Regions from separate parts of the Homo sapiens genome. Here all the other regions are reported to be linked to region 3. The links are microRNA targets in miRTarBase. Many come from high-throughput screens and were not tested one by one. Region 3 holds a microRNA gene; each other region holds the end of a gene's coding sequence.

Evidence for each region. The annotated mature microRNA hsa-miR-4668-3p reads GAAAAUCCUUUUUGUUUUUCCAG and lies in region 3 at 2,895-2,917, shown strand. An mRNA with a match to its seed (bases 2 to 7 or 8) in the 3' UTR can be bound and repressed. Matches are read on the target gene's strand: a 7mer-m8 pairs with bases 2 to 8, a 7mer-A1 pairs with bases 2 to 7 and ends in A, and an 8mer does both.
Region 1: the mRNA of SLC15A4 is a reported target of hsa-miR-4668-3p. Seed matches in the 3' UTR shown: 7mer-m8 at 1,668-1,674 and 8mer at 1,713-1,720.
Region 2: the mRNA of TMEM164 is a reported target of hsa-miR-4668-3p. Seed matches in the 3' UTR shown: 7mer-m8 at 823-829, 7mer-m8 at 3,984-3,990 and 7mer-m8 at 4,657-4,663.
Region 4: the mRNA of DNAJC10 is a reported target of hsa-miR-4668-3p. Seed matches in the 3' UTR shown: 7mer-m8 at 3,787-3,793 and 7mer-m8 at 1,518-1,524.

What each region holds. Positions count from the first base shown.
Region 1 is chr12:128,788,300-128,795,419 of GRCh38, reverse strand. SLC15A4 (solute carrier family 15 member 4) reads left to right here. Exons shown (of 8, transcript NM_145648.4): 8 at 1,064-2,226. The coding sequence ends at 1,224. Among named protein-coding and RNA genes, the nearest start is that of SLC15A4, 32 kb to the left of the region's middle. RefSeq lists enhancers at 137-276, 3,341-3,500, 3,052-3,552, 3,551-3,640, 5,705-5,804.
Region 2 is chrX:110,172,843-110,179,962 of GRCh38, forward strand. TMEM164 (transmembrane protein 164) reads left to right here. Exons shown (of 7, transcript NM_032227.4): 7 at 403-4,946. The coding sequence ends at 609. LOC124905230 reads left to right here and starts at 2,931. Exons shown (of 2, transcript XM_047442708.1): 1 at 2,931-2,975; 2 at 3,074-4,946. The coding sequence starts at 2,931. The coding sequence ends at 3,556.
Region 3 is chr9:111,929,253-111,936,372 of GRCh38, forward strand. MIR4668 (microRNA 4668) reads left to right here and starts at 2,848; the gene lies at 2,848-2,917. It overlaps UGCG (UDP-glucose ceramide glucosyltransferase), which reads left to right. Exons shown (of 9, transcript NM_003358.3): 6 at 248-426; 7 at 2,019-2,105; 8 at 2,918-3,107; 9 at 3,575-6,117. The coding sequence ends at 3,745.
Region 4 is chr2:182,776,213-182,783,328 of GRCh38, reverse strand. DNAJC10 (DnaJ heat shock protein family (Hsp40) member C10) reads right to left here. Exons shown (of 24, transcript NM_018981.4): 24 at 1-6,208. The coding sequence ends at 6,197. Among named protein-coding and RNA genes, the nearest start is that of DNAJC10, 64 kb to the right of the region's middle.

The sequences.
Region 1 (7,120 bases), not on the chromosome of region 3:
TGCTGTCCAGCCTGCTTGGGATGCAGACGTTGCGTGTAAAGTGCCTCCATAGTGCCCGGGACTCGGTTGGGTATTCAGTGTATGCTAACTCTTTGTATTAAAGTATGCAGAGGTATCTGCTTGTGTCAGTTTGAGGATGCTAAAACCTGAACATGTTTAAGACACATTCAGAAACCAGCTCATCTCTTCCTTTGATACATTGCCCAGCTGTCGGCCCTGGTGTGTTGGGTGTGTCAGTGACCCATGCAGTGAATCCAGAATTCACGATGTTCAGGCTGTGTCATAGTGCAATCTGTGATGCTAAAAAGTGCACAGGTTCCATAGCCAAGTTACAAAGACGCTCACCTCAGGATTCGATAAAGAGATAGTCAGGCGCTCTTTTGTTATCTTCGCATCTGCCTTCCTCAACAATGCAGTTCCAGGCCAATCATAACTATAAATGGAGGAAGTTCCCCTGAAGTAGTTGAGGAGAGGAACACTGCCTCAGAAAAGGCAGGAAGGAAATAACACCAGACCGGCTAACACTTGTTTCTGGTGGCAAGAACACAGGAAGGTAATTTTTTACTTTGCCCAGCTGTTCTGGTGTGGGGGGATTAGCAGTCACAGGAGGCTGGGTTGGCAGGTTTCCCCTTGCTCCTGATTTGCAGCCTTGTCGTGCGGCCTTAGGCACACTCTCCGTCGACACTGTCCCCTTCACCACCGCATGTGTGTCTGCAGGCCACGCAGGGATTTTCCTGAGTACTGGGGAGCTACCTTTTCTAGTTTCCTCAGGGAACCTCCTCCTTTTACCTTACAGAAGAGAGGGATGGGCTGCTAGGGGCAGGTGGGGGGCTGCAGACAGCCCACCTCCAGAGCCCCCGGTGGCGATGTATCTGACTTCAGGGAGCTTCTTCAGTGGTTTTGAAAGCAAGATGCTTGTGCATTTTGGACTACAGAGACAACATTTGTTACTTTTTTTATGACTCCAGTTAAACCTTAGTGGGAACCAGATTAAATAGTAAAGTCTTGAAAAAATACCTGTAGCAGCGCAGCTTACCTGCCGCTTTCCTTTTGTTTTCTCCAGGTAATATTAACGGCTGCTATTTGAACTATTACTTTTTTCTTCTGGCTGCTATTCAAGGAGCTACCCTCCTGCTTTTCCTCATTATTTCTGTGAAATATGACCATCATCGAGACCATCAGCGATCAAGAGCCAATGGCGTGCCCACCAGCAGGAGGGCCTGACCTTCCTGAGGCCATGTGCGGTTTCTGAGGCTGACATGTCAGTAACTGACTGGGGTGCACTGAGAACAGGCAAGACTTTAAATTCCCATAAAATGTCTGACTTCACTGAAACTTGCATGTTGCCTGGATTGATTTCTTCTTTCCCTCTATCCAAAGGAGCTTGGTAAGTGCCTTACTGCAGCGTGTCTCCTGGCACGCTGGGCCCTCCGGGAGGAGAGCTGCAGATTTCGAGTATGTCGCTTGTCATTCAAGGTCTCTGTGAATCCTCTAGCTGGGTTCCCTTTTTTACAGAAACTCACAAATGGAGATTGCAAAGTCTTGGGGAACTCCACGTGTTAGTTGGCATCCCAGTTTCTTAAACAAATAGTATCACCTGCTTCCCATAGCCATATCTCACTGTAAAAAAAAAATTAATAAACTGTTACTTATATTTAAGAAAGTGAGGATTTTTTTTTTTTTAAAGATAAAAGCATGGTCAGATGCTGCAAGGATTTTACATAAATGCCATATTTATGGTTTCCTTCCTGAGAACAATCTTGCTCTTGCCATGTTCTTTGATTTAGGCTGGTAGTAAACACATTTCATCTGCTGCTTCAAAAAGTACTTACTTTTTAAACCATCAACATTACTTTTCTTTCTTAAGGCAAGGCATGCATAAGAGTCATTTGAGACCATGTGTCCCATCTCAAGCCACAGAGCAACTCACGGGGTACTTCACACCTTACCTAGTCAGAGTGCTTATATATAGCTTTATTTTGGTACGATTGAGACTAAAGACTGATCATGGTTGTATGTAAGGAAAACATTCTTTTGAACAGAAATAGTGTAATTAAAAATAATTGAAAGTGTTAAATGTGAACTTGAGCTGTTTGACCAGTCACATTTTTGTATTGTTACTGTACGTGTATCTGGGGCTTCTCCGTTTGTTAATACTTTTTCTGTATTTGTTGCTGTATTTTTGGCATAACTTTATTATAAAAAGCATCTCAAATGCGAAATCCATGAGCCGGTTCTTTGCGTGGTTTGTCCTCAGTCGCTGCTGGTGTGGCGTGTGGATTCCTCCCCTGTCGTGTAGAAGGCGCAGAGCTTCCCGAGTCGGGAACTGAGGGGAGGGTGGGGAAGTGCGCTCCTGCACAGCCCTCGGATGCTCCGGCGCGTCTCCTGATTCTGCAGCCTCCTCTGCATGGAAGGGTAGTTTCAGCATTTGGAGAAGACAAAAAACAAACCAAAAAACCCTCACGTTGTTGTTCGTTGTGTAATAGAAAGTATAGAAAAACTATAGAAAAATACAAGACATTTCAACCAGTGGAAGTAGGATAGAGTGAATACAGATGACACTCATGGTATCACTGGATCTCAGAGGGGCCGGAGTTGTGAGCCCAGGTTAAAAAAAACGGGGCAGGTTTCGAAAAGCCTTGTGCTACGAAGGATACCACTTTCCGGAGACAGAACTCATGTCTTCAGGATATATCACATGTAAAAATAACCCATGGTGTCAAACAGATTTTCTTCATAAGGCCTTTGCACAAAAGGGGAAAGGCAGGTGGCGTCGGGAGAGCTCTCGGATCCTTCCTCCGGTGCGTTGTGCCCTTGATGCCCCGGGCTGTGTGAACGGTGAGTGAGTAACCACATCCATCCGCTCCGTCTGTCCCGCCAGCCCCTGCTCCTAGCTAGGTGCACCCTCGATGTTACGAGGGAAATTCTCTCCAGAAAGTCAGTTGGAGGGTTGACAGAGTCATCAGGGTACCAGCCTGTGATATTGTGATGAGATAAGAAACAGATGTGGTCTGGGCCCTAAATCCCTGGGACAGAACTCCTGCAACCCCTGTAGATAGGGCACGAGGAGAAGCCCACATTTTCATATTTGCTCTTTGACCCCTTGACCCCAGCTCCTGGCCTAGAGCTGCTAAGGCCTTTGTAATTTCCTGGGTGATGGGAGCATCTTTTGTTCTAATGAGGCCATCTGTGGTGGCTCCTGGACAGCCTCAGGAGAGGGGGTGCTTGCTCGGGGAACCAGTCTGGTGATTGGAGTGGGGGGACTTTCAGCCCTCCCCCTCCCCCACCTCCAGGAAGTTGGGGGGGTGGGGGTAGAAGGTGGAGTCGATCACCAGTGGCCAGTGGTGTGTCATCAGTCATGACTACGTAATGAAGCCTCCATAAAACCCCAGAGGCCTGGGGTTCTGAGAACTTCCTGGTTGCTGAACTCATGGGGGTTCCCCGAGGGTGGCACACCCAGCGGGCATGGGAGCTTCCCGGTCCCCTTCCCACACACCTCACCCTGCACACCTCCATCTGCCGTTCCTCTGTGCCCTTGTCACAGCCTTGATAATAAACGGGCACGCGTGAGTAAAGCGTTTCCCGAGCTCAGAGCTGCTCTGGCAAATCAGCTGAACCTGGAGAGGGAGTTCCTGCTCTGTAGTTGGTCAGAAGCGTAGGTGACAGCCCACTACTTGCGCCTGGCATCTGCCGGGGCGGGCAGCCTCGTGGGCCTGAGCCCTCAGCCCTGGGATCCTGATGCTGCCTCCAGGTGGGTGGTGGCAGGGCATATGCCAGGATATTATAGGATGCTCAGTGTCCGCCGGAGCATCGTGTGACGTGGGGAAGGAGAGCCACTTTCCCATCCTGCATCAGAAGTGTTCTGTGAGAGTAAAGACTGTTTTTTTATCAGACAACTTTTTACATTTTCTTCTGAATTTAGATAGTTGATCAGGTTCACCCTACAGCATGAAGCGGTGATTGAATAAATAAGCATGAAACATGTGCCTGCCCTGAAGACGTCGGTGTGTGTGTAACTGGCTTTTCTTGGCCTCATGAAGCAAACGTCTTCTCGCTCCATGTGAAGATGCTCAGCCAGACTTTCTTTTCGGGGAAGCTGGGCAGGACAGAGCTTTTCATTTCTCCACAGTGTCATGGGCAGATGGGGAGAAAAAGTTCTTAAGACTGACAGGGACCCACTGGGCCTGTGGTCAGTGATCCCAGGGTGAGACTGCGACCGCATGTCCTGCCTGAATTTGCGGACGGGCTGTACAAGTACAGGGTCCCTGGGGCCGGCCTCGTGCCCCCCACCCCCAGGGGCCGAGATGCTGCTTCCCGGAGGATTGGAGAGCGCACAGTACCACATCACATCACACTTCCCAACAGCCCATCATCTCAGAGTCACACCAGGCCCGTCCTGATCACTTCTGAATTCTAGGTAATAAAAAATGGATGATCCTCAATATTACCAATTATTTCACTTGGTGCAAAATCCCATCACCTGGAAAAAAAAGCACATTAAGCAGGAGCGGAATGCTGCAATAATGTGAAACTGCTGTGTGCCGCAGAGTGATACACACTGTTATTAACACGGGCCACATATGTTAATGGGGATTCTCAAACAATGAAGTCACTTGAGTAACTATTTTTAAATGTTCATTCTCACATGTTCTTCTTTTGGAAATAGGGCCTTTTAAAGGAGATAATGCCTACAAAGTGATTTGTTGGACTAGAATCTATTAAGCAAATGAAAAGTACAGAATGTAAAGGGTGAAAGAAAAAGCAGCCGAATGATGGAAAGCTGGATAGTAACAAGAAAACTCAGCATTTGCTGGTTTCCAAATGAGCTAAGCATGCTCAGGTTGTCAAAGGGCTGCATGGAGAGGAAGCCAGCCCAGTGCCAGGGACCTTGTTTTTTCTCTGTTTGACCGAATCCCAAACCAATGCATCGTGAGAGACGTGTCTTGAGACGAGATGAGCAGACACCCCCAGACGTTCAGGGACTAGGCCTGGTCACAGCCTCCCAGTGGTGAGGACGGCACAGAAACCTGTGTTCTGGTCTCTGTGCCGGGCTGTGTCTCTAGTGACATCAAAATTCAGCCACAGAACGCATAGGGAGTTGAGGAGGCCGACAGGTAGCACGGCATTTCCCAGAAACGCAGGATGAGCCCCTTGACCTCTAGGGCTTTGATGGTGGGAGTTGAAGTTGGGCAGGTCCATTGCATAACTCCCCTTACCCATCCCTAGCATCTCCCTGTTGCTTAATCAGAGCTGCTGTCAGGGCAGATTGCTGGAGGTCAGGAGTTTGGGACCAGCCTGGCCAACATGGTGAAACCCCGTCTCTATTAAAAATACAAAAAATTAGCCGGGCGTGGTGGTGCATGCCTGTAACCCCAGCTACTCAGGAGGCTGAGGCAGGAAAATCACTTGAACCTGCGAGGCGGAGATTGCAGTGAACCCAGATCGCGCCACTGCACTCCAACCTAGGTGACAGAGGGAGACTCCGTCTCAAAAAATAAATAAATAAAAACTGTATTGGTATATTAATCCTTTTCTGGAACTCTCAAGTCAATCACGAATCCCTTCTTTCAAGCCTAAAGGACTTCTCCAGACAGCTGTCCAAAAGCGGCTCTGCACGTCTGATTGCAGTGATTGGGGTTGGGAAGGATGCATTTGGAGTCACCTGCGGGTGCTCGGTGAGGGCCTGGATGTTGATGGAGTAGGGACCTGAGGTTCCCAGGCTAAGGAGGTGTCTTGGAAGCCAAGTGAAGGGAGTGTTTCCAGAGGATGGGGTGGTCCACGTGTCACAGGCTCCTGCCGGCAAGCTGAGCTCTGTGTGGGGTCCTGACAGGTTGCAGACAGCTGGAGGAGAGAGGAGACGCCCTCAAGGGACTCACAGAAAAGAGGAATGCAGGGCAAGGGAGGTTTCCACTTTTAAGAATGGAGAAGTGAAAATAAGCTTCTTCCTGAAAGTCTGGCATCGGAGTAAAGTGACTTTTTTTTTTTTTTGAGATGGAGTCTCACTCTGTCGCCCAGGCTGGAGTGAAGTGGCACGATCTTGGCTCAGTGCAACCTCTGCCTCCCGGGTTCAAGCTATTCTCCTGCCTCAGCCTCCCTAGTAGCTGGGATTACAAGTGCCCGCCACCAGGCTCAGCTAATTTTTGTATTTTTAGTAGAGATGGGGTTTCATCATGTTGGTCAGGCTGGTCTCAAACTCCTGACCTCAGGCGATCTGCCCACCTCGGCCTCCCAAAGTGTTGGGATTACAGGTGTGAGCCACTGCACCCGGCCTTTTTTTTTTTTTTTTGAGACGGAGTTTCGCTCTTGTTGCCCAGGCTGGAGTGCGATGGTGAGATCTTGGCTCACCGCAACCTCCGCCTCCTGGGTTCAAGCAATTCTCCTGCCTCAGCCTCCCGAGTAGCTGGGATTAGAGGCATGCGCCACCACCCCAGCTAATTTTGTATTTTTAGTAGAGACGGGGTTTCTCCATGTTGGTCAGGCTGGTCCTCAACTCCCGACCTCAGGTGATCTGCCCACCTCAGCCTCCCAGTGTGCTGGGATTACAGGCATGAGCCACCACGCCCGGCTTTTTTTTTTTTTTTTTTTTTGAGACAGGGTCTCTCTCTGTTTCCCAGGCCGGAGTGCAGTGGTGCAATCATGGCTGGCTGCAGCCTTAACCTCCTGGGATCAAGCAATCTTCCCACATCAGCCTCCAGAGTAGCTGGGACTACAGACACACATTACACCCAATTACTTTTTTATTTTATATTTTGTAGAGTCACGGTCTCACTATGTTGCCCAGGCTGGTTCAAATTCCTGGCCTCAAGTGATACTCCCGCCTCACCCTCCCAAAACACTGGGAATACAGGCATGAGCCACTGCACCTGGTCAGGAATTTAGTAGAGATGGGGTTTCACCACGTTGGCCAGGCTGGTCTCGAACTCCTGACCTCAAGTGATCCACTCGCCTCGGCCTCCCCAAGTGCTGGGATTAGAGGCGAGAGCCACCACACCCAGCCATGTGACTATTATTTTTGTGGGAAAGGGCTGGATTCCTGACCTAGCTCTCTGTGTTTGGTGAAGGCTGGGGTTTGGATTTAGTGAGTCAAAAGTGAGGTGTAAATGGTGCAGATGCTTTTACT
Region 2 (7,120 bases), not on the chromosome of region 3:
GATGTAGTAAACCTTTGACCACCCCCACTTGATTGATTGCAGTTACGTGGAGGCAGGGCCCACGCTGTGGGCTGTACTTTTAGCCTGTAACACCTCTCCGGGGTCTAGGCACATAGTAGATGCTCAGGAATGGCAACAAGTTCTGGGCCCAAACAGAAGGCAAGACCGTGAGCAAAACTGAATAGCTTTTCCACTAGACGGCCCTCCGCCATCACCTCCAGAGGCCTCTAGCTTGACTCACTCAGAAAACCGAGGGGAGAGAAGAAATCCCTTTATAAACAGGTGGGGATTGGTCAATCCCTCCTTGTCTAGTCCCCCATTAGGTAGAGATGGCTGAACTGGCAGAAGCCAGAGAAAGCCTAAGGATGGTGAACGCTCACTCTACCTCCCTTGTCCCTGCAGGTCACCGAAGTGAATTTGAACAACATGCTGTGTCCGGCCATCTCAGACCCATTCTACGGCCCCTGGTATCGCATCTGGGCCTCGGGACACCAGACTCTCATGACCATGACCCACGGGAAGCTGGTCATCCTGTTCTCATACATGGCTGGGCCCTTGTGTAAATATCTGCTGGATTTGCTCCGGCTTCCAGCCAAGAAAATAGACTGAAGGTGCTTATTTTTTTTTTTTTTCCTCCCTGAGGAAGCAAGTCGTGACTTGACTTGGAGAACACCCAGTTCTTGATAAAATCATGGGAGAGGGCAGTAGGATGTTTGGTGTATTTCTTTTTCCTCCTTTCTGTCCCTTTCTTCTACCACTCTTCCTTTCCCAGCTCTTCCCCCTACGATGTCTCCTTGAGCCTGGGGTGTAGTGCTGGGCGCTGGATTTTCCTCCTTCCCTTTGGCTCTCTCTCTGCTCCTAGTGGCCTTACATGGGGAGATTGCAGTGAGCGGCTCTTTCACTCTGCTTGTCGGTGCTTTAACAACAGCTGGTTGAGGAGAAAGGGAACAACAAGTAGTAGTTCTTTTGGCATCGAAGCAATGAGATTGGGTTGTGTTTCATTTCTCCACTGCCAGGGACCTCCAGGCTTATGCTGGCGTCCCATTTAGTCTCCAGCACAGCCCTTACCACGGGGGACTGAGGCCTTGTTTCTATACCAGCGGCAAGCCCAGAGCCGAGGGATTTCACAGCTCGTGGTCAAGACAGAACCAGCCAGATTCTGGTCACTGGTGTCCCATGACTCAAAGTAAACAGCCAACCAGCCACTCCCTCCAGGATGCTGCCTGGGGTGGGAGGTGAGAGCACCACCCAGCCCAAGGGCTAGATTCCATTGAGAGGGTTGGAGATCTATTGCAATGACAAATCCAAAGTGAAGAGGGTCAAGATATATACAGTACTAGGCCAGACCCTGTGTAAGTTCTGCCTGTGAGAGTTGAGAACTGATGCATATCCCAATCAGAAGTGAGCACAGAAAACTGTGATTTGAATCATACACTCTGTTTTAGGAAAATGTTGATAATAGATACCATTTTAATCTTGAGTGCCCCTTAAATGTGTTCCCTCTCCCTTTCCCTCTCCCCCCACCCCTCCCCCTCCCCCCTCCCTCCCTCTTTCCCTCTCTCAGGCAGCTTCAGGGAAGAATGAGCTGGAATTGGCTGGTTGGTTGGTTTTTGAGTTTGGAGAATCCTCGCATCAGGGCCCATTTCTGGAAGATTCTGTAGATCTGTTTCTTGGTTTTACAGGGCCAGTGTTGTTTCCCTAGGGCCAGATTTCTTCAGTGTATCCACACTCAGTGCTGAATTGTTTAATGTGGGGGACATCACGTCCTCCTCATCCTGTCTACCCCCAAATCCCATGTCTAGGTTGAAAGGGGGCTGCCAAAGAATTAAGTCCTCATGGGTGGAGGTTCAGGTGCTCCACAAGGAGGAGCTTTTGTTGAAGGACTTCAGCTCAGTTATGCACGGACCTCAAGCAGGCAGGAAGTGGCTGGGCATTGCTGACTCCACATTGACTCCCACTAGGAACAGATTTGCTTAAGAACAGAAAAGCTCATTTGGTGATTTTGTCTGATGAGCCTCCCTTCCCCTGTCCCACTCTAGGCAACACAGTTGACCTAGACCAGTTCCAGTATTTCCAGTTTGACCGTGTTTGACCTACACTGAGCTTCGGTGCCTCAGTGGTCATAATTTTAGCAAGTGGACCTATAGGAAGCAACCCTGGGAGGGACCGTCCTTCTGCAGAGGCCTGCGGGCATTGAGGCTATCAATCCCCAGGGCTTGGGGAGCAGGAGGGGAGGGCACCAAGTGCTCTTACTCTCCTGAGCTCCTTTTGATGCGTAAGCTTTGTTTTTGGCCCTCTTTGAAGGCAGGGCCAAACTTTTCTTAGTGCCTCTCACCTTAGGGTGGCCCTCCAGGGAAGGTGCTCCTTGAATGGCTGGATTGGCCCTGCCCACCGTCAAACTGCTACATGTAGGAATAGCTGATGAGGAAATACACAAGGCCTCAGTGCCCCTTGGCCTCTTTACAAAAGGAGAAGTTGGAAGGGGATTGTGGGAGGAGCCCCTGGGGGCCTGGTCTGTCCTCCACCAGAACTTGGAGTTGCTGCCAGCAGAGGATCTGTGCCTCAGCTGAAGACTAGCTCCGGAATGTCATAGGGGTGTGACTGTGTAGGCCTTCTCCTCCTCCTCGTTTCTGTGGCATGGCACAGGTTGCCTGGTTGCTCGAGCCTTCCCCATGTTGACATCCTCCACAAGCTTGCCTTTGCTCTGTCTACAGCTTAGTACCCCATTCTGGAGGGCACTTTCTGGTGCTTGGAAGGAGAGAAGAAAGCAAAAGCCACATGCCTGGCATGGCCAAGCCAGAGACAGATCCACCTGTCAGAGGAAGGAAGAAGTAAAGGGGGCATGCAGGGCTTTTGGGGGCCAGATTGGCTCAGAAACATGTAGGTCAAAAGAATAGAGGGGGCCCAGTCTATAGGCTTCACAAGGAGCCATGGCCTGTATTTGGGGCATTGGGGAGCATAAGGCATCTGAACTGGTCCAGATCTCACTCTTATCTTGGGCCAAGCCAACGTGGAGAGAAGCAACCCAACCAGACTCTTGGCAGCCTGCCTTACAGGGTAGCCCACCTTATAGGGTAGCCCTCATATCTGCCCTGTGCCGGCCCTCTACTGCCCCAGCTTTGGTACAGGAGTGAGGGAGAAGCTGGAGCTTGCACACCCAGTGGCCAGTGGGGCTGTCTTCCCAGCTCCTCCTCAGGGCTTTCCTGTCAGTGCCAAGCCAGTTCCCCAGCCAGGTTTCCGTGTGCCATTTGCCAGCGTGTGGGAGCTCTGCGCGTGTGTGAGGGTGTTTGTAGAAGAGGGCAGTTTCCTTTCAAATGGCCTTAGGAAGGGAAAAGAGTACTCCCTCCAGCCCCTAGGTAGCCTTGGCCAGGGATGTGGGCCAAGAACAGTCTGTGGAGCTGGCCAACTTGTGGCATCCACTCCAAATAGCAGAGACCCAGTCACGCCTGCTTCTGGTCCTCCCTGCCCTCAGTATTTGGTTTTGTACACCAAAGATGATCTGGCCCATCTTCCTCCCAGAGGCACAACAGTAACATGTTCCTCTGTCAGCCTGTGAAGGCATGCAGGGTTCTGAAGCCACAGACTCAGTCTCCCCAAGTCAGCAATCTCTTTCTCTCTCTCTCCTCAAACTTCATCGCATTCATAGAAGCTGCTTGCAGGGTCGCCGGGCTAACCAGGGTGATCGGCGAACTTTACCGTACAGTACCTCAGTCTAGCTGTCAGATCACCCCTTTTGCTGTAGCCTCTGTTGAGGTTTTTATATTTGTGATCATTGGTAATTCAGTGTCCTATGAAGTGGGCACAGCTCCCCACAGAGAGCAAGTTGTCAGCAGGTCTCTGTGCACTGGTATTGGGGCAGGGCAGTGCCCTGGGGGTAAGCTAGGTGGCTCAGGGAGTGGCAGAAGGGCCATTTTTCCCTCTGCCAAAAAGACTTCCTTGGATTTGTAGATGTTGACCCAGAGTCCTCTGTCCCCTCCTGAAGAGGATTTTCTTACTGGTTTCTACTGAAGGGGAGGTAGGGGAGGAGGAAAAAAGGACCATGTGTGATGCTGTTAGACAAGACACTGACGCTGATTATGGAGGGTCTCCTGCAGGCCCTTGTGGGCTCCTTGGCAAGGCCCCAGGCTGGGAAGGAGCTCCCCCCACTGCCCATCCTGCCCGCTTTGTGGCGGGTAGAGTCAGTGACAGGGAGGCAGCCCTCCTTTTGTGTATATAGAGTGAGCTGATTTGGGCTCAGGAAAACCTAGTCGCTTGTTGCTCTCGTCTGTGACATTTTTGTACACTGGTTTGCTACTCATGGCAAGAAACAGACAAAGCCCCATGAAAAATAAAACAAAACAAAAGTCATTTCAAACAAAGCTGTTGTTTTGAAAACTCTTGCTTTCTTTTGGTGTCCATTTTGTGTTCTATTTTAAAGAATCTTTCATTTATATTGGTGTTATTGTAGTGAAGAGAATGTGATAGGCTGATCTGTAATGGTTTCTGTCAGGAGCTTAGCAAATGCCTCTGCCCCTCTTCCCCTACCCCTGTCCTTCCTCAGTTCCCAGCTGGGATTGCTATGCACTGGGCAGACCCGTCACTGTCTCCCCTGAACCCCCACACAGTGGCTTCCCTTAGAACCAGTCTTTGTACTCTCCCTAAACAGCAGCAGGCTTAGGATTTTTGTCAGGCTGGTTCTTGCGTGCTCTGTGCCCCCACCAGTTTGCTCACCTCTTGGGGCATTTTGTAATGTGTTTTCTCTGTCTTGTAAAACCTTTTGATTGTACCGAAATGGTATCTGCAGTCGCCTTTGGAAATAAATGGTCATTAATTTGTGTACTTAGCATTCTGAATTTTAGTCTCAGGTGTTTCTGTTGTTGAAGATCCTTGAATGAAAAGGAACCCTCACCATGGGGCTTACTGTTATAATGTTTCTTCATTTACTGTTATTAAAAGATTTATGAGAACCCAGGAGTCCTGGCCTTGCTTCCCAGAACCCTCTCAGAAGGCCCTCTGCTTTGAAAAATAGACAAAAGGGGCCTCTGGCCCTCCGTACTGTGGAAGACCCTCAAAGGACAGCTGGGCTTTCTCAGCACACTTTTGTCCTGGGAGCTGCGTGGCTGGTTGCCCTTGAATTCCCACACATTGCCTACTTCTGCCAGGGACCCAGCAGGCCATTTGCTCTTAGCAGAGGGCTTGTCTGCCGGGCACGTTTGCTGGGCTCTCTGGTACCCAAAGTGCATTGGGCTAGGCTGGAGGACTGAGCTGGAGAAGGCAAACACATTCAGGCCCACTCAACCTAGATTTCCTGAGGGCCAGCTCTGCACCAGCACTTCTCAGCACAGGCCTGCACCCAGCATGGGTCGGACCATGAACAAGATAGCCTTACCCTTTGGAAGCAGACCTGCTTTTCCAAGGCTACCTGCTGAGCAGCCCATGATGACTGTGATTGGCCCTTTTTACACAGGACAGAGGCCCTGTTCAGGCTTTCACCTGGGCTGCTGTTTCTGGAGAGGAGAGGTAGCCAGATAGGGAGGGGTAGCAGAACTGAAAGGCACAGGAAGAAAGGGGGCCAGATATGGCGAAGGGGAAGGACGGAAAGAGGCTGGTGGGGAGGAGGTGAGGAGAGTTGGTTCGTGTCCTTCCCCCATGTGTTCTTTTTCAGGAAGAGAGCTGAAAAAGACAATGACCTAGGCCATTGCCATCCCTACCCTGGGCAGTCTTTGTACAGCTAGCCAGACCTGGCAGCCAGTGCAGGTGGATCTCCTCATTTGCCAGTGTTTGGGCACCCAGGCTATGAATGAGGCAGGGTCTTGCAATTGTGGACTAGAAGATTAGCAGCCTAGAAAAGTCACTTATCTTGCTGCCTCAGGTTCTTAATCAGCAAAGTAGTAGCTCCAACTGCACACCAGGCATGGAGCCAAATCCCTCCCATTACCTCTTAGAATCCCCATCAAAGTACAATTAGCTGACTGGCAATGCTGTCCTTGTACGGTAGGGAGAAAGTGAGAACATGGAGGTTTAGTCATAAATGGAGGAGCTGGAATTGGAAACTAGTTTTGTTAGACCCCAAAGCTCACATGCTCTCCACTCTCCACCAGCTTCCACTGCCTTTCCAGTGTGCTGGCACTGCTGGGTAGACCCTTGCCCAGGGACCCCTGGTCCTTATAGAAGTGGAAAGAGAGCCGGGCAGTGGTGTGGAAGATGAGAGAGAAAGGGGAGGCCCACGAGTGTAGAAAGCAGAGGAATCAAGGCCTGTCAGCAGCAGCCTCAAAGCAGACCTGAAAGGCACAGGAAGAAAGGGGGCCAGGTGAAGGGGAAGGATGGAAAGAGGCTGCGGAGAGGAGGTGAGGAGAGTTGGTTTGTGTCCTTTCCCCATGGGTTCCTTTTTAGGAAGAGAGCTAAGAAAGACGATGACATAGGCCATTGCCATCCCTACCCTGGGCAGTGCATCTGCCCCTACCACCATGTCCATCCCCACCCTAGTCTGTATTCCCTCCTGCAGGCAACAGTCTTTTCCAGTGCAGATCTGCATCACTTCCCTGGGCCACTGGCTCTAGAATATAAAGCCCAGGCTCTTTCATGTAGCATACAAGCCCTGGGCTTTGTAAGCATCTTCAACTACATCTCCTCCACCCCACACTCCCAAAAGAAGCATGCAGAGAAACACTTCACTCCAGCGGGATCGTACTCCCCTTTGGCATGCCACGCCATTTCCCAGGTCCTTGCCATTTGTTTCCTTTGTGCTGTTTTCTCAGCTTCCCACTCTCCCGTTTCATCCTAAGGCCTCCACTCAAAGGTTAGCTCCTCTCTGCAGTCTTCCCTGAGCCCCAGGCTATGTTAGGTGCCAGTCCACTTTGCTCCTACAGCACCTGGTACTAACTCTGGCCATCATTTGCCTCCCTCTTACGTGATTCATTACTGGTCTCTCTCCCTCTGTAGACATTAAGCTCCTTGAGGGCCAGGTGGGGTCTGATTCATCCTCCAGCCCCTGGCACAGGACCCATTCCATGGAAAGTGCTCCGTGAACAAGGATCTTACACCTGAGTGCTAAAATATGGTAGGAGGCACCACTGTTCTCTGATGGAGAACCCTAGGCTACATAAGCCATGCCCATCCTATGAATTCTCCTGGATGGGGC
Region 3 (7,120 bases):
ATGAGTGATATTTTTACCTTATTTTGTATCTAAATTAAGTTTTATTTGGATGCATTTTTAGCTTACTAACTGTGCTTGCTCTATGAAAGCAATATTGTCTACCACTTTTTATTCAGGTAGTCTACGTAAGAATAATAAGATATTCACTCAATCATACTTATAAAAAAACCATTGGGAAAAACAGTTCGTGAACACCATGCTTTTAACATGAAATTCTAATCATACACGTTTGTGGTTTTTTGGGCAGGTATATTTTGGAACTTCACATCCAAGATACTATATCTCTGCCAATGTAACTGGTTTCAAATGTGTGACAGGAATGTCTTGTTTAATGAGAAAAGATGTGTTGGATCAAGCAGGAGGACTTATAGCTTTTGCTCAGTACATTGCCGAAGATTACTTTATGGCCAAAGCGATAGCTGACCGGTAAGACAACTAAATGAAGCCATAGTATTTTTATTACCTAACTTCTGTTGGTTTATTCTTTTTGTTCAACCTATAGATTAGGGCTTTTTAATTTAATTTTATTTTTTTTGCTAGTAAGTACAGAATAGGTCAATAATTTTATTATTTTGTTTGTTTTTGAGACAGAGTCTTGCTCTGTCACCTAGGCTGGAGTGCAGTGGCGCGATCTTGGCTCACTGTAGCCTCTGCCTCCCGGGTTCAGGTGATTCTCATGCCTCAGCCACCAGAGCACCTGGGACTACAGGCATGTACCACCATGCACACTAATTTTTGTATTTTTAGTAGAGATGGGGTTTCTTCATGTTGGCCAGGCTGGTCTTGAACTCCTGAACTCAAGTGATCTGCCCACCTCGGCCTCCTAAAGTGCTGGGATTACAGGTATGAGCCACCACACCCAGCAGATCAATAATTTTATAGAGTAATTCATATTCTAATTATAGAATTGTAGATATGTACTAATGAAGAAGGTAAATGTTCTGATTCCTCTACATTTTTCAAATTAATGTGTTTTAAAGCGATTAAAAGTAAGTTTCTCTGTGTTTAGAATTTTTACTATATAGATACAAATTTCTGTGTTTTAGAAGAATTAAAACTATCAGTGCAGTCATAAACTAGTAGGTGAAAATTTAAAGACTATCATTTCAAAATTTGAAATTTGTCAGTGAATTATATGATACTTTGCTAAGAAGCCACTGAAAGATTCATATGACTGACTTAGCATTTCTCTATCACAAAATACTTGTTTTGTTTTGGTTTTTTTTTTTTTTTTTGAGACAGTCTCGCCCTGACATCCAGGCTGGAGTGCAGTGGCGCAATCTCGGCTCACTGCAGTCTCCGCCTCCTGGGTTCAAACGATTCTCCTGCCTCAGCCTCCCAAGTAGCTGGGATTATAGGCACCCGCCGCCACACTCAGCTACTTTTTTTTGTATGTTAGTAGAGGCGGGGTTTCACCATGTTGGCCAGGCTAGTCTTGAACTCCTGACCTCGTGATCCGCCCGCCTCAGCCTCCCAAAGTGCTGGGATTACAGGCATGAGCCACTGCATCCAGCCTAAAATACTTGTTTTTAAAGGAGATCACTGCCTTGTGTGAGAATTCTTTTAAATTTTTTAAAAACTGAAGTGTGTTTTAAATACAAATTCTGTCATGATTGTGTTCATGTGGTTCATGGTTTCCTAGTGTCTCCCATGAGATCCATAATGCCACTTTCTGTTTACATGTCTTGTTGTTTGGTTAGTAGTCATCAGAGACTAATCTATTAAATATGGAGCCCTCTCCATTTTTTTTCAAAATGACTGCATTTTAAGTTTCTTAAATTGTAAAGTAAGGTGGGTACAGTTTCTTCTAGTTCTTAGATGGTGCTGTCACGGGCCAGCATAATTGCTAAAACATCCATACGTATGGTAGACCTTAAGTCATGTGCTAATCATGAAAGCTGGGCTCACCCTGAATACCGGCAGTTGCCTGGTCTTTATAATGATTACTGAATGCATAACCAGTTACGCTTGCATGTGTTCATCATCATAACTTATTTTCTAATTATCTTAATTTTCAGAGGTTGGAGGTTTGCAATGTCCACTCAAGTTGCAATGCAAAACTCTGGCTCATATTCAATTTCTCAGTTTCAATCCAGAATGATCAGGTAAATCAACTGTTTTCTTTTTATACTTCGTTAAAAGGAAAGTGGGGAGGGGGGTGGTAATTTTTACAGGTTTAATGTAGTTAAATGAATGTACCTAAAGGTTGAAGATTTTTGTTTAGTTGCAGAAAATAGAGTTTAACGTCTGTGTTTAAGATAAATTTAATGTCTAAATGTATTTTATTTGCTGTATAACACTGAAAGCACTCATTAGAGAAATGTTGAGACTGAATTTTTTAATATGCTGATCTTTATTTTCTAACTTTCTGTGCTGATTAAATTTTATTATCTGTATTCATCAGAGCGTAGGCCATACAAATGAATTTAAAGACATTTTTCTTTGACATCCTAGACAAAAATAGAAAAGAGAGTCATTAAAAAAAATTTTTAGGTTGTGTGTGGTGGCTCACACCTGTAATCCCAGCGCTTTGGGAGGCCAAGGCGAGAGGACTGCTTGAGCCCAGGAGTTTGAGACCAGCCTGGGCAAAATGGTGAAACCCTGTCTCTACAAAAAATGCAAAAATTAGCCAGGTGTGGTGGCGTGTACACCTGTGGTCCCAGCTACTTGGTGGGATGAGGTGGGAAGATCGCTTGAGCCTGGGAGATTGAAGCTACAGTGAGTGCCACTGCACTCCAGCCTGGGTGACAGAGCAGAACCCCGTCTCAAGTAAAAAAAAAAAAACAAAACAAAAAAAGTTTAAAGAGAATGGTCTTTCTATCACAGGGTAAAAAAATTGATTATTTGAGGGAAAAAAAAAAGGATTTGTCTTGTAGCCAGGATATTGTTTTAAAGAAAATCCTTTTTGTTTTTCCAGGTGGACCAAACTACGAATTAACATGCTTCCTGCTACAATAATTTGTGAGCCAATTTCAGAATGCTTTGTTGCCAGTTTAATTATTGGATGGGCAGCCCACCATGTGTTCAGATGGGATATTATGGTATTTTTCATGTGTCATTGCCTGGCATGGTTTATATTTGACTACATTCAACTCAGGGGTGTCCAGGTATGTGGATAGGCATGAAAAGGTTGGCAGTCCCTTGGTGGAACTAGAACTATTTCAATTTAGAAAAAGTTGAAGGAAATGTATCTGAGCCATTCTTCAGCTTCCCATTGTAGGTTAGTCTCGGGTTTGAACATGACTTTCTCTAGTGGAATGTTGATGCAAAACTTAAGTCGATTTGCAACTTTCTATTGGTTATATAATCGCTTTTATTAAGTTTCCAAAAACATGAAGTTAATTAAATCAGTGAGTATTGAAACTAATAAGACATTAAGATAGCAGTTATTTTAATGCTTCATTAACAATTAGCATTTTCTTGAACGGTATAACATGGCAGTTAAATTACATAAGGAAGCAGACTTGATTTTACATAGTATACTTAGAAAAGTGAAATCCAAGAATTTAATTTTTTAACCTTGTCTTTAGTTTGACAGTGAGTGAAATTAAAAAATTTTTTTTTCCATTCCTAGGGTGGCACACTGTGTTTTTCAAAACTTGATTATGCAGTCGCCTGGTTCATCCGCGAATCCATGACAATATACATTTTTTTGTCTGCATTATGGGACCCAACTATAAGCTGGAGAACTGGTCGCTACAGATTACGCTGTGGGGGTACAGCAGAGGAAATCCTAGATGTATAACTACAGCTTTGTGACTGTATATAAAGGAAAAAAGAGAAGTATTATAAATTATGTTTATATAAATGCTTTTAAAAATCTACCTTCTGTAGTTTTATCACATGTATGTTTTGGTATCTGTTCTTTAATTTATTTTTGCATGGCACTTGCATCTGTGAAAAAAAAAAAAAACACATCTGTAGTCTTGGCCAAATGATACACTTTATTTTGTGGAAGTAGAGAATCAAGAGAATTGGTTCTAGGAACCTGGGTTCGTTCATCATTGTTGTTTATTTTTTTAAAATAAATAAATAAATATATATATAGATGCTCTGCAACAAACTCTGTGACAGTATCCTTCAGTAGAGAAAGTTTCTTACTTGTGAGTACACTCTTTTAGAACATTTACGGGTGGCAGCAGCTTTGCTTTAGAGTTTAGAAGATAATAGAAGGAATGACTATTCATGTCCAAAGTGAATGGTTTTGTGCAGTGAACAACACATGGCGAGGTACTAACTGAGAAACTTTTTCATGCTTTATGCCTACCTCTTGTAGTTGTTGCAGAGCAAATATAAATTGTAATAAGATAGCTAGGCCTTGCAGAAACAAACAGAAAAACTTAAAAAAAAATGATATAAGAGCTGGAGTCTAGTATTTATATGAATCTGTGAGAGATAATTTTTTTGGTCTCACTGCAATGAACCAAAAGCGGCTGAGTTTGGTTTTTAATTGTAGCCATGTATTGAAGGCATCTTTTTGACCAACTCTTGTTGGTTCTGTCTTGAACCATTGTTAATCACTGTGCTGTAATTAGTATAGCTAAATCTTTTCCTTCCTTGCTCCTCCCCCAGCCCACCCCGTCTTCCCTTAACATTTTTTCAGGGGGGGTTGGGAGTGGTTTCATTTTAGTGTGAGTGGATGTTTTGATAGTTGTAAGGAAAAAATGCATTTCAGACACATTTCACACATGAGCTATTTTCTTACACAGTATGTCTTATTGTTAATAAGAATGTAATTTCATGATACAAGTATTTAATACCTTTTTTAAGTCAGTAAATATTCTAGCCATCAATAAATTGCAGTAGAGTATTAAGAGGGGACAGGATGAGTTTACTCTTAAAATTAATCAGTATCAAACTAAGTCTACTGTGTGTGTTTTTTTTTTTTGTTTTTTGTTTTTGTTTGTTTACTATTATAGTAAGTCTAGTCTTATTTAAATTGGATTTTTGTATTCAAGTTTATATGACAAAATAGACTAGATCAGCGCTGGTTGTAAATGCATGCTGTACCTCACTGTTTTCTCCCCATCATGCCGCTAAACTTGCTCGCCAGGTTGTGCTTAACTTGTGGTGAACTGGACTTGATTCTGTTTTGTTTTGTTTTTTTAAAAAAAAAAAACAAAAATGTAAGGGACAGTGCATAAGCCTTTTCTTTGTTAAGTAGTGGTGTTTTGCTTTTTCTTCAGGATTGGATGGCATGTTGTCCACAGGAATGCCTACTGCAGGGCTAACACTGGCAATATGGCAGCTTTAAATTCTGAGTTACTACAGTCTCCATGTCAAAGCATAATGTGTAGCATATCAGCAATAACTACATATTTATAGAAAACACTTTTTCACTTTACTGAGCCAATTCATTTAATTGTCAAATGTCTATATCCATGGTTTAAATGGCAACATATCTATAAGTATGTATACACATTATATTTAAGCTTTTCTCTGGGCCAAACTGCTTCATCCTTTTTTCTTTCTTTTTTTTTTTTTTTAGCCTTATGATGAATTTGTTTGAAGGGCATTTTCTTTATGAACAAAGGCTTGGATGCATATTCCTTTCTTTCTGTGAATGGGTATTATTCCCTGAGGAAAGTTGCACAGTGAAAACCAGTCTGGTTGTGACCCACTACATGTTTTGTTTTTAATCACTATTACCTGAGTTGAACTTTGCTCACCATGTTTGTACTTGTTGGTCTGTTTAATGAAGTTTGGTTGATGCCATCCTTTGCACTGCCGAAGCGTAATCTTGTGTATTACTTAGCTCTCTGCTGATCTCAGTATGGACAGTGTAACAACAAAACCAAAATGGCTGGACAGACTTCTTGTGTTTTGTAAATATAAACTAGGACAGTTCTGTAGGTTTGTTCAGTGTGCTAGTGGAGTATTTCCTTAATGTAAAACTTCACTTAACAGAGAGATTCTTTGTTTAGCAAGCTTGGAGTGATGATAAAATGGTAAGAAATAATATAAATGTTGAAGAAAGCATCACAACAGAACTATAGGAGTCTAAATTTAATAAATCTTTAAAAAAAACCAGTGTCTAGAATATATACCATGTTTTATTATTTAAAATCATTGTCTTAAATTTTTGTTCAAAAAATAAAAATTTGAATACAATCAAAACGTTAGCAATAGTGTATTTTTTGTTCTTCTGTATTTTTATAAGTAGCATGTTCCACCATTCACATCAGAATTATTAGAAGAGTTCTGTCAAGTATTCCTTTTGAAATCTTCCTTTTACCTGAGCCATAGGTAAAATAAATAAGGACATAGGCAGTCCTGTGACTTAAGTATGGCTTTTCTACATTGGTTGCCTGTTAAAATCACCTGGAGAACTTGTAAAAAAAAAAAAAAATACACAACACACACCCTGGGCCCTGTACACAACACACACACACACCCTGGGCCCTGTACACAACACACACACACACCCTGGGCCCTGCCCACATAGATTTTGGTGTAATTATTTTGGGTGAGGCCTGAGCTCTTCTACCCGTGATTCTACTGTGAGAATGACTGGCTCGTAATGACCTTTAGAAAAGAGCCAGTGGTCCTTTGGGCCCCTCTCCCCCCGGGCTCACAGCTTGAACTCAGCCTTTTAGATCTTACCACTCTAATGGCTAGAAAATGTAAATCCAAAGGAAGGAATGGAGTGGCATTATTACTTGAGACCCAGATGGGAGATGCACCTTACATACTTTCCAAGGCCAGGTCCCTCCCAAGCTGGAAGCCTTTACAGGCCTGTTTTACCACCATCCCATGAGAAAAGAATGTTCTTAACTGGAGAACAAATCCGGGGTAGAAAGAATCCGCTCTCAGCTGATATTTTTGTCTCTCCGTAGTTCCTGTGTTGAAACCTAATGCCCAATGTGAGGAGGGTCTTTCAAGGTGAGGCCTTTGGTAGGTGATCAGAGCCGTCAGGATGGGATTGATGCTTATAAAGGAAACCCCAGAGAGCTTTCTTGCCTCTTCCGCCATGTGAGGATACGGCAAAAAGGTGACCAGCTATGAACCAGAAAGTCAGCTTTTACTAGCCACTAAATCTGCCAGGGCCTTGATCTTAAACATTCCAGCCTCCAAAACTGAGAAAGTTTTGTTGTTTATAACCCACCCAGTCTATGGTATT
Region 4 (7,116 bases), not on the chromosome of region 3:
CCATGTTTTAGTTAGCTAATGTTTTACCGCTTGGTAATATAAATAGCCACTTAGAATTCAAGTTTTCTAAGTTTCCAATTTCATATTTTCCAAAAATCAACACTTATTCTTTTAAAGACATTTTACTTCCTCCAAACATTTGAAATAGCAGTTATGACAAAAACATGATTATCTCAATAGATGCAGAAAAGGCCTTCGATAAAATTAACACCCTTTCATGCTAAAAACACTCAAAAAACTAGATATGATGGAACATATCTCAAAATAATAAGAGCTATTTATGACAAAACCACAGCCAATATCATACTGAATGGGCAAAAGCTGCAAGCATTCCCTTTGAAAACCGGCACAAGACAAGGATGCCCTCTCTCACCACTCCTATGTACTGGAAGTTCTGGCCAGGACAATCAGGCAAGAGAAAGAAAGCGTATTCAAACAGGAAGAGAGGAAGTCAAATTATCTCTGTTTGCAGATGACATAATTGTATATTTAGAAAACCCCATCATCTCAGCCCAAAAACTCCTTAAGCTGATAAGCAACTTCAGCAAAGTCTCAGGATACAAAATTAATGTGCAAAAATCACAAGCATTCCTATACACCAATAATTGACAAACAGAGAGCCAAATCGTGAGTGAACTCCCATTCACAATTGCTACAAAGAGAATTAAATACCTAGGAATACAACTTACAAGGGACGTGAAGGACCTCTTCAAGAACTACAAACCACTGCTCAAGGAAATGAGAGAGGACAGAAACAAATGGAAAAAGCATTCCATGCTCATGGATAGGAAGAATTAATATTGTGAAATAGTCATACTGCCCAAAGTAATTTATAGATTCAATGCTATTCCCATCAAGCTACCATTGACTTTCTTCACAGAATTGGAAAAAACTACTTTAAATTTCATATGGAACCAAAAAAAAAAGAGCCCATATAGCCAAGGCAATCCTAAGCAAAAAGAACGAACTATACTACAAGGCTCAGTAACCAAAACAGCATGGTACTGGTACCAAAACAGAGCTATAGACCAATGGAACAGAACACAGCCCTCAGAAATAACGCCACACTTCTACAACCATCTGATCTTTGACAAACCTGACAAAAACAAGCAATGGGGAAAGGATTCCCTATTTAATAAATGATGTTGGGAAAACAGGCTAGCCACATGTAGAAAACTGAAACTGGGACCCCTTCCTTACACCTTATATAAAAATTAAGTTGATAGATTAAAGACTTAAATGTAAGGTCTGAAACCATAAAAAACCTAGAAGAAAACCTAGGCAACACCATTCAGGACATAGGCATGGGCAAAGACTTCATGACTAGAACACCAAAAGCAATGGCAATAAAAGCCAAAACAGATAAATGGGATCTAATTAAAGAGCTTCTGCATGGCAAAAGAAACTATGATCAGAGTGAACAGGCAACCTACAGAATGGGAGAAACTTTTTGCAATCTATCCATCTGACAAAGGGCTAATATCCAGAATCTACAAGGAACTTAAATTTACAAGAAAAAAATCCCATTAAAAGTGGGCAAAGGATATGAACAGACACTTCTCAAAAGAAGACATTTAGGTGGCCAACAAAGATATGAAAAAAAGCTCATCATCAGTGGTCATTAGAGAAATGCAAATCAAAAACACAATGAGATACCATGTCACATCAGTTAGAATGGCGATCATTAAAAAGTGAGGAAACAACAGATGCTGGAGAGGATGTGGAGAAATAGGAATGCTTTTACACTGTTAGTGGGAGTGTAAATTTGTTCAACCATTGTGGAAGACAGTGTGGCGATTCCTCAAGGATCTAGAAATAGAAATACCATTTGACCCAGCAATCCCGTTACTGGGTATATACCTAAAGGATTATAAATAATTTTACTATAAAGACACATGCACACGTATGTTTATTGGAGCACTATTCACAATAGGAAACACTTGGAACCAACCAAAATGCCCATCAATGTTAGACTGGATAAAGAAACGGGCACAAACACACCATGGAATACTATGCAGCCATAAAAAAGGATGCGTTCATGTCCTTTGCAGGGACAGGGATGAAGCCGGAAACCATTATTCTCAGCAAACTAACAGGAACAGAAAACCAAACACCACATGTTGTCACTCGTAAGTGGGAGTTGAACAATGAGAACATATGGACACAGGGAGGGGAACATCAACAATGGGGCCTGTCGGCGGGGTAGGGGGCAAGGGGAAGGACAACATTAGAAGAAATAGCTAATGTAGATGACAGGTTGATGGGTGCAGCAAACCACCATGGCACATGTATACCTATGTAACAAACCTGCATGTTCTGCACATGTATTGCAGAACTTGAAGTATTAAAAAAAAAAAACAGCAGTTGCTTAATGAAGATTGTCTATCAGTTATTAACACAGACCTTTTTGGGGATGATTGCTAACTTTCAGGACCAAAGGCCACTAGGTGATGCACTCAAATGACTACTTAATGCAATCAAGTGGTTGAAAGATGCATTTCTGGAGTCCATACTGATGTAGACCAGTTTGGCGTTGAGACTTTGGCTGTATTTTTGGCTAGTTTCCATTCACAAAATATACCTAGCTGTTTACAAGGGGACTCAGTGACAGTACAAGAATCTAAGTGTAAATTCAGTGTTAAACAGAAAAATGACTCAAGCCAGTGAAACACATTTTTGTGTATGATTAGTAATTTATACTCAGCTTGGTCATTGGCCTAAATTTTGTAATTCTTACTGAAAAGAAACTGTATTAGTCTGTTTTGCATTGCAATGAAGGAATACCTGGGACTGGTTACCTTATAAAGAAAACGTTTATTTGACTTGCAGTTCTGCAGGCTGTAAAAACATGGCACCAGCATCTGCTCAGCTTCTGGTGAGGTCTCAGGGAGCTTTTACTCATGGCAGAAGGCACGGGGGGAGAAGGCATGTCACACAGAGAAGGAGCGAGAAAGAGAGGAGGTGGTGGTGCCAAGTTCCTTTTAACAACCAGCTCTTGCAGGAATAAACACAGCAGGAACTCATTACCACTGGGGAAGGCACAAAGCCATTTATGAGGGATCAGCCCCCATCACCCAAACACCTCCCACCAGGCCCCATATCCAACACTGGGGATCATATTTCAACATGAGATTTGGAGGGGACAAATACTCAAACCATATTACAAACTTCTTCACTAGAAGAATTTGGGTATATGTAAGTAAGTTTTCAGTATATGTGTAAAGTAGAATATTATCAGAAAGGTTATTTACTTTTCATCTTCATTATCAATTTTCTATAGGTATCATAAAAATTTAAAATGCATTTTGTTAATTTAATCTTTTATTATTTCTTAACAGTCACAATGGAATAAATGTGCCTACTTTAAGACATCTATCTGGTTTTGTTGGCAGATTTAAGGACTAACACTAGACTAAATATTACACAAATATTCTATTCAAATGACTTAAAAGTGCTACCCTTTTACTAAAAATTTTATCGTACTAAACATCTTTGAAATGTGTGTCCCATAGGAAATGTGTTTTTTTGATAACCGTACTTCTAAAAAAATTCCCACTTTGAGCACTGTCAGAAAACAGAGCAAATTTAAAGAAAATTTTGAGAATATAAAATTACATAAACATTTCATTTTACTTTTCCTTTATCTTAATCATATACCTTTAAATAAAAAAGCTATGAAAGACCTAAATAAAATTTGAGAAATCAGAATAGACAAACATCATTAATGCCCAAAACATAATTTATTTATTAGAGATGGGGTCTTGCTATGTTGCCCAGGCTGGATTCAAAATCCTGAGCCCAAGCAATCCCTCCTGCCTCAGCCTCTCAAGTAGATGGGACAATAGGCGCACACCACCATACCTGACTGTAAGCCACATACTTTAAATGGACCTAATTTCCAAGCCTGGCTGCCTGATAGAATGTGCTTTGGTCAGCTAGAATTGATACCATGTTAGAGGGTCAGCTGCACACAAAAATGGTGTTGCTGAGAGAAATGGCACATTATACCTGGTACTCCTTAGAGGTGCTCTATCTACTGTATCAATATAGCCATTAAAAGCTCAATCTGCCAGCTGTTTTTGAAAGACCCAATAATACTGTTATGACTATATAAGATAACCTTGATGTATGTCACTTTATGATACGTGTTTCTTAACATGACTCCCAGGGGGCCCTGGCTTAGAGCTGATTCCAAAGGCACACAGCTTAGGTCAAATTATAGGACACATAATATTTACTATTTTATTTACTGCCTAAAATGTTTCTCAACAACTAACAAGTACAGGAAACATTTATAGGTAGTAATGTAAGTACCTTATGAGCTCAATGACAAAACAGTGAATTACAGACAGTTGGAAGATGGGGACCATGTCTTAGATTCCTTTTGAACACTCCTCAGTGTCCAGTGTGGTGATATGCACATAACCAGTATATTTTAGTAAGTATTTACCCAAGTAAGACTTCTTTAGGCATTCCATTTTGGGATTCTTGTAGAAAGAAGCCAATTTTGTAGAACTCCTAGGCTTTAAACATTCGAGAATGAAAGGCTCTTGCCATTACTGATCATAATTCAAAAAGCTGGTGTTAAGTGTGACAAGTGGTGACTGTTCCATATATGCCAACAGGCATACAGCAGAATCCAGACAGAGTATATAGTAGCGAAAAAGATGGGAGAATATGAAGAACAAAGTCTATTTTAACATTAATTATGGCTATAATAACCCTTATGAGGAAATACTGGTGAGCAGGATAAAGTGATATTGAAAAGAAAAAAAGGAAAACTCCTCAAAACACAATAAAGCATATTCTAACAGGTTTTTGAAAAAGTTGCAAGCCTTTTAATTCATTGACCTCTTTTGACTGATTGGAATTTTTACCATTCTGTACACTCTGAATTATAACTAAACAACTACATGTTACTGACAAATTTGTGATTCTTTGAGTCTAAACAACACAGAAACTAGAAGATCCCTTTCCTAGATTTATATACTTGATTTTCTTATAAAAATAACTTCAGTTATTATGTCAATATTTATCTGAAAAAGGCAGCCCTCTGACAGTAAACTAGTAACTGGAATAACTACAGTATCATTATAAGCTACAGTAAAACAACCTGTAAAGTAATTTTTCCTATTTGAATAATAAATAGACTGGACAGGAGTGAAAAACCAAAACTACGAAAGAAAAACCCAATGTAAATAAAGGATACAGGTCAAAACAAAGTTCAGAAGGCAAATATGTAAATATTAGATGCCTCAAAAATCAACTATCAGTGGGAAAATTTCTATGAAAGCAATTTCAGAAAATACATGAACACATATATCTTTAAAATATAGAACTCTAAATACTTGATAACATATTTAGGATACTCTACAATGCCCAGTTAATTGCTATAATTTTTTTCCCTCAGGTTTTCCTGGATGATACGGCAAACTACAGAATTTGTGCACTTACTGTTGCTCAAATTTGTGTACTTACTGTGTGCACATATACTGCTGCACTGTTTCTCGGCTGTGAAAAATTAAAAGCATTTTTTCAACCTTTGAGAAGGAAAGAAAACAATGAAGAATCTCCTCATAATAATACAGCATAACAGGGTTTGTTTACTGTGCCACATCATGGGTGTTTTTAAAACGAAATATAAATATATGGTTAGGGATAGCATTTTTAGGAGAACAAGTGACCAAAAACTAAGTTACCTCTTTTCAGGTCAGCCAAAAAACGTGAAGGGAAAGTGGACTTTATACAACTTAGACATTTATGTAGATAGCACAGCAGACTCATGTTCAAGCCAGCCACCTGAAACATTATAAGTCCGTCGAGGGGGACAGCAATCTATGGTCCATGGACTGAATCCAGCCTACTTTTGTATGGCTCTGAGCTAAGAATCGTTTTAATATTTTTTAAAGGTTGTTAAAAGCAAATAACAAAGAATACATGATGACTCTATTCTTGTTCTCATGTGTGAACCATATATTATAGCCTGCAAAGTCTAAAATATTTATAAACCGGCCCTTTACAGAAAAAGTTTGCAGACCCTTCTTTTACACCAGTGCTGTAGATAATTCTGGCAGTACAACTGCAAGTCTAAGATAATGTTCATTCATTCCCATCATAAATGTAACATTCTAAATAGGTGTCTTCTGATGTCATCTGTCAGAATTTCTTTTAAACTTTTTCTTCATCTTCAACATTATCAAAGTTCATCCTATAATAATAATGTAAAGGCGATAGAGAAAGGAGAAAGTATGAGTTGGTAATGTTAAAAATAAGGTGAAATACCACAAACCAACATTTTACTTTTTCAGAAATACTCAATATTCTTATTTAATGGATCATGACATGAAATATACTTTGCCAAAATATAACAATAAAAAAGAAAAGAATATCCTAGTTCTTACCTGCTCACAGCAGATATTACTAACTATATAGGTTTACATAATTTCAAGCATATTGGGTATTCTCTTTAACTTAATTTCAGGTATGATATTTTAGATTATGACAATTTTTAAATTTCAAATATTTAATGAGATAAAAGTTACACCTTTCAAAATAAAATATCTTGAGAAAACTAATATAGCGAAACACTAGAAAAACATGTTTGTTCAGTGGAACCAAGAAAATACAGACTCATAACTCTTTCCTACCTTTCAGATTCGTAAAAAATATTCTTGAGGTAGGTTGTAAGGCTTTGTCTATTGGGGTCTGCAGTTTGAACTGGATTACAGTAGAACCTATTGTCTAATATGGTGCTATAAAGCCAGTCTTCTCTAGCCCTTTCCAGAGGCTGAGCTATTTTGTCCTCCTTTCGCCTCATAGGGAAAGAATCCGAGATACCTCATGTGATTGTATTAAATTCCATTTTAAAAGCACTACAACATTCATAGACTCTTTGTTCTGTTTTTAAGTATGATCTACAGTAACACCGATTTGAAAAAGGTAAAACTGAACTGCCTTCTGAAGAGTAACAGGAAAAAGGTTGTGCTGCTTCTTGACAGATTAAAGATTCAAAGAGGGGCCAACACAAATATGGGTTTCAATACATTCTGATTACACCAAGAACAAAAGAAAATTTGCTATTCAAAACGTGTTATGAGGCTCCAGTATATTTATTCC